Linked DNA regions of Homo sapiens: region 2 is reported to be linked to region 1. Evidence: microRNA targets listed by miRTarBase, many of them from high-throughput screens and not tested one by one. Region 1 holds a microRNA gene; the other region holds the end of a gene's coding sequence.

The links. The annotated mature microRNA hsa-miR-1185-2-3p reads AUAUACAGGGGGAGACUCUCAU and lies in region 1 at 1,232-1,253, shown strand. An mRNA with a match to its seed (bases 2 to 7 or 8) in the 3' UTR can be bound and repressed. Matches are read on the target gene's strand: a 7mer-m8 pairs with bases 2 to 8, a 7mer-A1 pairs with bases 2 to 7 and ends in A, and an 8mer does both.
Region 2: miRTarBase lists STX7 as a target of hsa-miR-1185-2-3p. Seed matches in the 3' UTR shown: 7mer-A1 at 2,525-2,531.

What each region holds. Positions count from the first base shown.
Region 1 is chr14:101,043,019-101,046,547 of GRCh38, forward strand. It overlaps MIR1185-2 (microRNA 1185-2), which reads left to right and starts at 1,180; the gene lies at 1,180-1,265. It overlaps MIR381HG (MIR381 host gene), which reads left to right and starts at 2,139. Exons shown (of 3, transcript NR_104192.1): 1 at 2,139-2,166. MIR381 (microRNA 381) reads left to right here and starts at 2,902; the gene lies at 2,902-2,976. It overlaps MIR1185-1 (microRNA 1185-1), which reads left to right; the gene lies at 1-44. It also overlaps MIR487B. RefSeq lists enhancers at 2,747-3,247, 3,248-3,529.
Region 2 is chr6:132,458,134-132,461,133 of GRCh38, forward strand. It overlaps STX7 (syntaxin 7), which reads right to left. Exons shown (of 10, transcript NM_003569.3): 10 at 1-2,717. The coding sequence ends at 2,625. Among named protein-coding and RNA genes, the nearest start is that of STX7, 53 kb to the right of the region's middle.

The DNA.
Region 1 (3,529 bases):
TTAATGGCGAATATACAGGGGGAGACTCTTATTTGCGTATCAAACTCTGTCGAGGAAGACGCTCAGACCCTGCTGTCTCCAGGACAAAGCCTCGGATGTCAGCCCCTCTCAGGTACGGCTTGGCTTCCCTGTCTGGGAACGTGAGCTTGGCTGTGATCCTAGCCCTTGGGTTCTGCCTTCGCTCTCTGTGCTGGTTCTTCCTGTGGACTCCCTGGAGGCAGTGGGAGAGGAGGGTCCTTTTTGTGTGCACTGAGTTTAATGGTGGTTTGCTTTTTTTAAGGATAAATCACATGGATCTGCCTCTTCTCCATACCAAGTCATACCCAGAGGGCTTCCTGCGTCCAGCACTAACCTCGCACCTCTCCGGACACACGAATGGGTGGTGGATGGTGGAGCGCAGAGCTGATGCTGCTTCTCACCTGCTACTCCCCTGACCTGCCACTCCCTGGTGGTCTCCATCCTTGAGAGAGTGTCAGCCTTGAGGGAAGCACATGGATGTCAGGTTGTTCTAAGGCAAGTTACTGGTGGAGCTCCCTGAGCCTGCCTGTGCCCTCTGGGACTGTCGCTGGACTCCAATGGCCAGTCCTCGGAGCACATTGTCCAGTGATTGCACCTGAGTGTGCCTTGGGCAGGTGTGTCTGGTCTTCAGGACTCCTTTGTCGCTAGAGTCTGACGCTGGGGCCCTCTTTTTGTTTGTTTCGAGGTAGGTACAGGTGACACATTCTTGGATCTGGTCATCTCTAGGACAACCAGCCTCAGAGGAGAGACATTGTCTCAGCGCTCTCCAGCTCTGAGAATGCCTGCAGATGCCTTCTTCTCTGATAACTCCATGTCTTGCCGGGCTGAGCCCTCACACCCTGTGCCCCTTTGGAGAAAGGTGATGGTTCCATTGTCCATGTAGCTTGTGGGTATTTGAAGCAGGTTCACCCATGCATGCTGAGCACACTGATAGTCATGCCTACCTGTTCCCTTGTTTAGAAGCCAGTCTCGCCTGCAGGGAGTCCTGGATGTGCCACCTTTCGGGGCCAGGCCACAATGTGCAAGGTGCAGGCCCAGCTCCAGGGTCAGCCAGATGAGGCTTGTCACCGGGCCCCTCCCCCTTGGTCTCAGGCCTCGCAGGAGGAGATGTCCACTCCGGCAAAGACCCGGCATGGTCCTCACCTGCTCTTTGAGCCACCCTTTGGTACTTAAAGAGAGGATACCCTTTGTATGTTCACTTGATTAATGGCGAATATACAGGGGGAGACTCTCATTTGCGTATCAAACTGTCGGAGAAGACACTCATACCCTGCTTGTCTCCAGGACAAAGCCTCGGATGTCAGCCCCTCTCAGGTATGGCCTGGCTTCCATGTCCGGGAACGTGAGGTTGGCTGTGACGCTGCCCCTGGGTTCTGCCTTCGCCCTCTATGCTGGTTCTTCCTGTGGACTCCCTGGAAGCAGTGGGAGAGGAGGGACCTTTTTGTGTGCTCCAAGTTTAATGGTGGTTTGCTTTTTTAAGGATAAATCACACATTGATCTGCCTCTTCTTGGTACCAAGTCATACACAGAAGGCTTCCTGTTCCCAGCATCAGCCTTAGAAGGGGGACCTGGATGTTGGATCATTTCAAGGGGAACACAGACAGCAGTGATGGTGGACCACGGAGCACTGGCTCTGTCTATGCTGTTTTCGAGCCTGGTAGGCCAGCCCCAGGAGGGCTTCCTGGAGGTGGTATTGACCTTGGGGAAGGGGCTGAGGTGTGCTCATCAGCGCTTTTTTTTTTTGATGCTTGGGTGTTCATGATCCAGCTCGCAGTCCCCAGGCTGAATCTGTAAGAATGGTTTGCTTCTATTTGTCATTTGTGATTGCCCATGAAGGCAGCGCTGGGGATGAGCCGTGGGAGCTGTCAGCCCCGCACCAGGTGCGTGCATGTGGGAGGTCAGAGGGCGCCTGCTTCTGCCTCGATGTCTGTGCCCCGTCTCTGACTGCTGGCTTTCTGCTCACACCTAGGATGGCTGCCTGAGAATGGGACTCTTGTTCTGTGTTTGTGGAGACACTCCTTGGGCCGTGTGACTGCCGGCTTTTTACACCCCGACTGCCATGGGGGTCATCTGGACCCGAAGCCAGCTTCAGGAAGGACATTCGCAGCATCCTCAGCCCAAGGAAAGCGAACGTCCAGCTGAAGAGAGGTGAGCACCACGCCTGGGTAATGAGTCACATAACCTGCCACCTGGACCAGGCGGCTCCCGCTCCTCTCCCCTTCTTGAAGGAGAGACCACTGTGGGGAATGGGCTGTGGGTCTGCTTCCTCAGTTACTTGGGGGTACGTGGGGTTTACTACTGTTGACCCTGTGCTCTTTCTTAGCATGGCTTCATGGCCACGATGCCAGCCTCTGGCAGGGGTGGGGCAAGGGCTGGCATGGAGAATGACACTGGTGTCAACGGCTCTGTGAGATGGATGAAGGGATGGTGACCACAGGGCCTTTGCTTTGTCTAAGGTGTAAATTCATCCAGTGCCTGGGACCTCGGTGCTGAGTGCATCCTTAGGAAAACTTCCTGGAGAGGTGCCCACACTGGGAAGGAGATGGTGGTCCCACCCCAGGGAATTCCTATAGAAAGTGAGAAGCTGAGCTCTGCGTGTGCCCAGGAAGGCCCGTGGGGTGGATCTCCTTTTCAGGAACAAGTTCTAATCTGGAGTGATGCCTGGAAAAGAGGCTGATTCTGGTGAAGGGGCACTGGCGTCTGCCCCTTCCTGGCCCCTTTGGGATGGAGAGCTGACCTATGGGCACACAGCTGGCAGGTGGTGTTTGCCACCTGGTCTGCTGATCCCGCATCTCCCACCCCCTCCCCCGCCAGGATGAACCCCGGGAGAGGAGGCCGGCCCCGTGAATGATAGTGAGGAACCTGCCCAGTGCTATTGTTTGGTACTTAAAGCGAGGTTGCCCTTTGTATATTCGGTTTATTGACATGGAATATACAAGGGCAAGCTCTCTGTGAGTATCAAACCTTGTCTTGGACCCAGTCCACACTCAGCAAGGGATGCGGTATGTGTGTGCATGACCGTGTGTATCCGTTTTGTGTGTGGCAAATCGTTCACGGGTCCCCACTTCACAGAGAGGACTTCACGGGCACCTGGATGACTTTAGGGAAGGCAGTGGCCTCTGGGACATCCCCTCTCCTGGTGCAGTGTGGGCGGGGCCAAAAGCATGCACGATGTGTGTGGTCTGGGTCCCTGCTTCCTGAGCGGGAAGTCATCAGCCCGGGCCGATGGCTGGGGTGGCGCTCGTGTGGGGTAGTGGCTTTGTGGTCCCTGCTGTTACTCGGTCCGTGAGTGTGCATGTTCTGCTTGGGGTATGTGACCCGGTCCACTAACCCTCAGCATCTAATTCATCCCCAGGACCGCGCCTTGAAGACGTACCAAGTCCACCCAAGGCAGTGGCTTTCTTTTCCGTGCTAACCTTTGGTACTTGGAGAGTGGTTATCCCTGTCCTGTTCGTTTTGCTCATGTCGAATCGTACAGGGTCATCCACTTTTTCAGTATCAAGAGCGCAGA
Region 2 (3,000 bases), not on the chromosome of region 1:
ATTTTACAATTTTTAACAAAAGCAGTGAAGACACTAAATAACCCAGTGGCGACCTCTTCAAAGTGCAGTGTCCTTGGTCACCAATGCAGATGCTACTGGGGCAGCCAGCGGGCTCAGAGGGTCCAACTCCAGACACTGCATCCATGGCTGTCCTAGACTGAGTTGCACTTGTAAAAGAGATGGTCCCACACCTACTAAAAAAACAAGCTACTCTAGTATCAATATGACATCACTCTTTTACCATCAATCATATTGCAAAACCATAGTATTTAACGACCAATAAACAGCCAAATACCTAATGCCACATTGTCGTTCAATTTACCTGGCTGGTTAATATCAGTCTGTGTTTGAGTATTTCTTTTGAGCACACAAAAACAAATGTATAGTCACTTGATGAGGAAATTCTTCACTTTGACTCAAATGGATTCACCATGCTGTCAGTTATGAAAACAACTCTAATTTTAATCTCCACAGGGCAACCTTCACTTTTCACAGCAGTTCTAAAACTGACCTACAGAAAAGTTCAAGATTTTTTAAAAAATTTGGCTACCATACTATGTTTCTTATTTAATTTTCTCTAATCAATACTACTCTTACGTTCCAAATATTTCATGGGAAATTTTTCCCTCAAACTTAATATGTTTCTTAAACAAATTGAAGCCACTAAAGTTCCTGTTTAAACCACTGATAACTGCCCCAGTTAAAATAATAATAATTTAAAATGATTACACTTCAAATAAAGGTACTAAAATCACGCCCCCCAAATTTGTAAGCGCTTTTGTTGTTATTGGGTACTCACTGTGAATAGAAGTAAATGTACTTGACCTGTATGAGAATAAACATTTTATCAAGTACAGCAAAAAAAACGGAACTGATTGTGAAAGCCATGGGGATGGGACTTTAAAACAGCGGTAAGACGCTGGTTTATCACCAGAAACCTCATGTGCCTCTGTGCACTTGAAGTAAAGACCACATTTGAGCAGGCCTGGTGGGCTGGCACAGGCCTCAGAACAGGTGCTGTTTGTGTGAATTCTCCTCCCTGCATTGTCCATTCTGTTCTAGGGCAGTCTGATTCTGGCAACAGGAGTCTCTAAGTTCCAATCACTCACTCACAAAAGAGTTTTCTGTAATCCCTTTTGTGGAAAAAAATGGAGTTTTTCTGATATGCAAAGCAACTTCTACCAGTCTGACAAAGTAGGTAAAATCGATGACACCCTAAAATAAAAACCTGGAGTGAACTGGTGCTCCAGAAAGATGCTGAATGGCCACAGTGCATGTGGTGATGTCTCCATGCTGAGGTTTCAGGCAGCACAGCACTAAGTATCAGGTGACCTGTGGTCCCACCAGAGCATAGTCCTCATGAAATAGGCCTAACCAGATACCTTTTAACTCATCTTTATTTTGGTTGCAAAGATGTGGTTTACTTAGCTACTTACTATTTGTTCCCATTTGAAGTCTCAGAGCTTGCCAAGTTAAACACCGCCTTCAGTACCGAGCTGCTATACAAGAACATTATAAAATACAAAGTATAAACTAAGATAATCCTCTTTACAGAATTCAGATTAGTGCATTAAAACAACATTGATTTAAAAAGGGAAGTGAGATAACTGGCAAACCTCCAATTGCTTTTTTAATGAAGGATGACACAAAATGGCACGCAAGGTAAACACTAAATTTTGTCAGGTGCTCAAAAACAGTTAATTGTGGGAAAGTTACTTTCCAAAAGTAATTTTGACCTAAAAATATTAACCATTATTCTATAAGACATAAGGGAAGGTAAATAATGGCCCACAAAACCAGATGATATGGTTAAGATAACTAGTTTAGTGGAATAACAAACTGGGGTCTTAAGAATCCAAACGCAATAGGTATTGGTATTGGTTGTTCATACTCTTCTTCCAAATTATGTTAAACATTTTTAGTAACTACACTTTCCCCCGTAAACATCAGACTTAAATAGACCATATGTAAAAACAACCTATCCTTAGTAATTTTACTAGGCAATCTACAGCAAAAGCTTAATATATACACAGAAAGAGTATCAAATAAACTAGAAAAGTATTCACCGACTTCAGGGTAAAAAAGATCTTAAAAGAAAACCAACAAAAAAATGAAAGACACTTTGTGCTGTTGTGAACCAGAAAAATACAACCCATGTATAGACCTTAATTATTTTACATTATTGAGAATATTTTCCCTGCTGAAGCAAATCAAAATTAAATTTGAGAATTTTAATTGAAGTAACACACATCTAGGTGTGTCACAGTGACAGGGAGATGCAAACAGAATACACACACCTTTAAATTTACGAATTCCCAAAACTAAGTCAAGCAGGGTAAATAAATTATAAATGAAAGGCATATGCAATGTGGGCAAAAACTTAACAACTATTAAATTGAAGACCAAGGGAGTTATGTCAGCAGTGACATTTAGAAAATCTTTCAGTATTAGAAAATATCAGATTTAATCCAAAGGAACCACCCCAACCCCCCCAATAAAAATAACAAAGTATGGGAACCATCCTTTATACAATAGCTTTAAAATAATAATTAAAAAAACATGATTACAGGAATCTTCCTACATAATTTAGACAATGTAGTGCGACAGTGTGCTCCTTTATAACTTCAGTGGTTCAATCCCCATATGATGAGACTGATAATCGCAACTCCAATGACAAGGATAAGAATGATGATGCACAGGGTTTTTCTGGATTTGCGCTGCAGACGCAAAAAACAAAACAAAACAAAAAAACATGTTTACAGATTTAGTGGAGTACCTCTACAGCAACTAAAAATAATTTGGTTCATTTCTAGAGTAAAATCAGTAGTAGTATATTGCCCTCAAATTTTTGACTGTGTTTTTTTGTTCCTCAAAAATCTCTTTAATACATATGGCACTATTCTTTCAAAAAAATTCTTGAACTAATGCTACAATTAAGGGAGCAATTTTTCAACTTTCATTGGTAATTTTTCTAAGGGTGTGGCTGACCTTAAGAAAGAA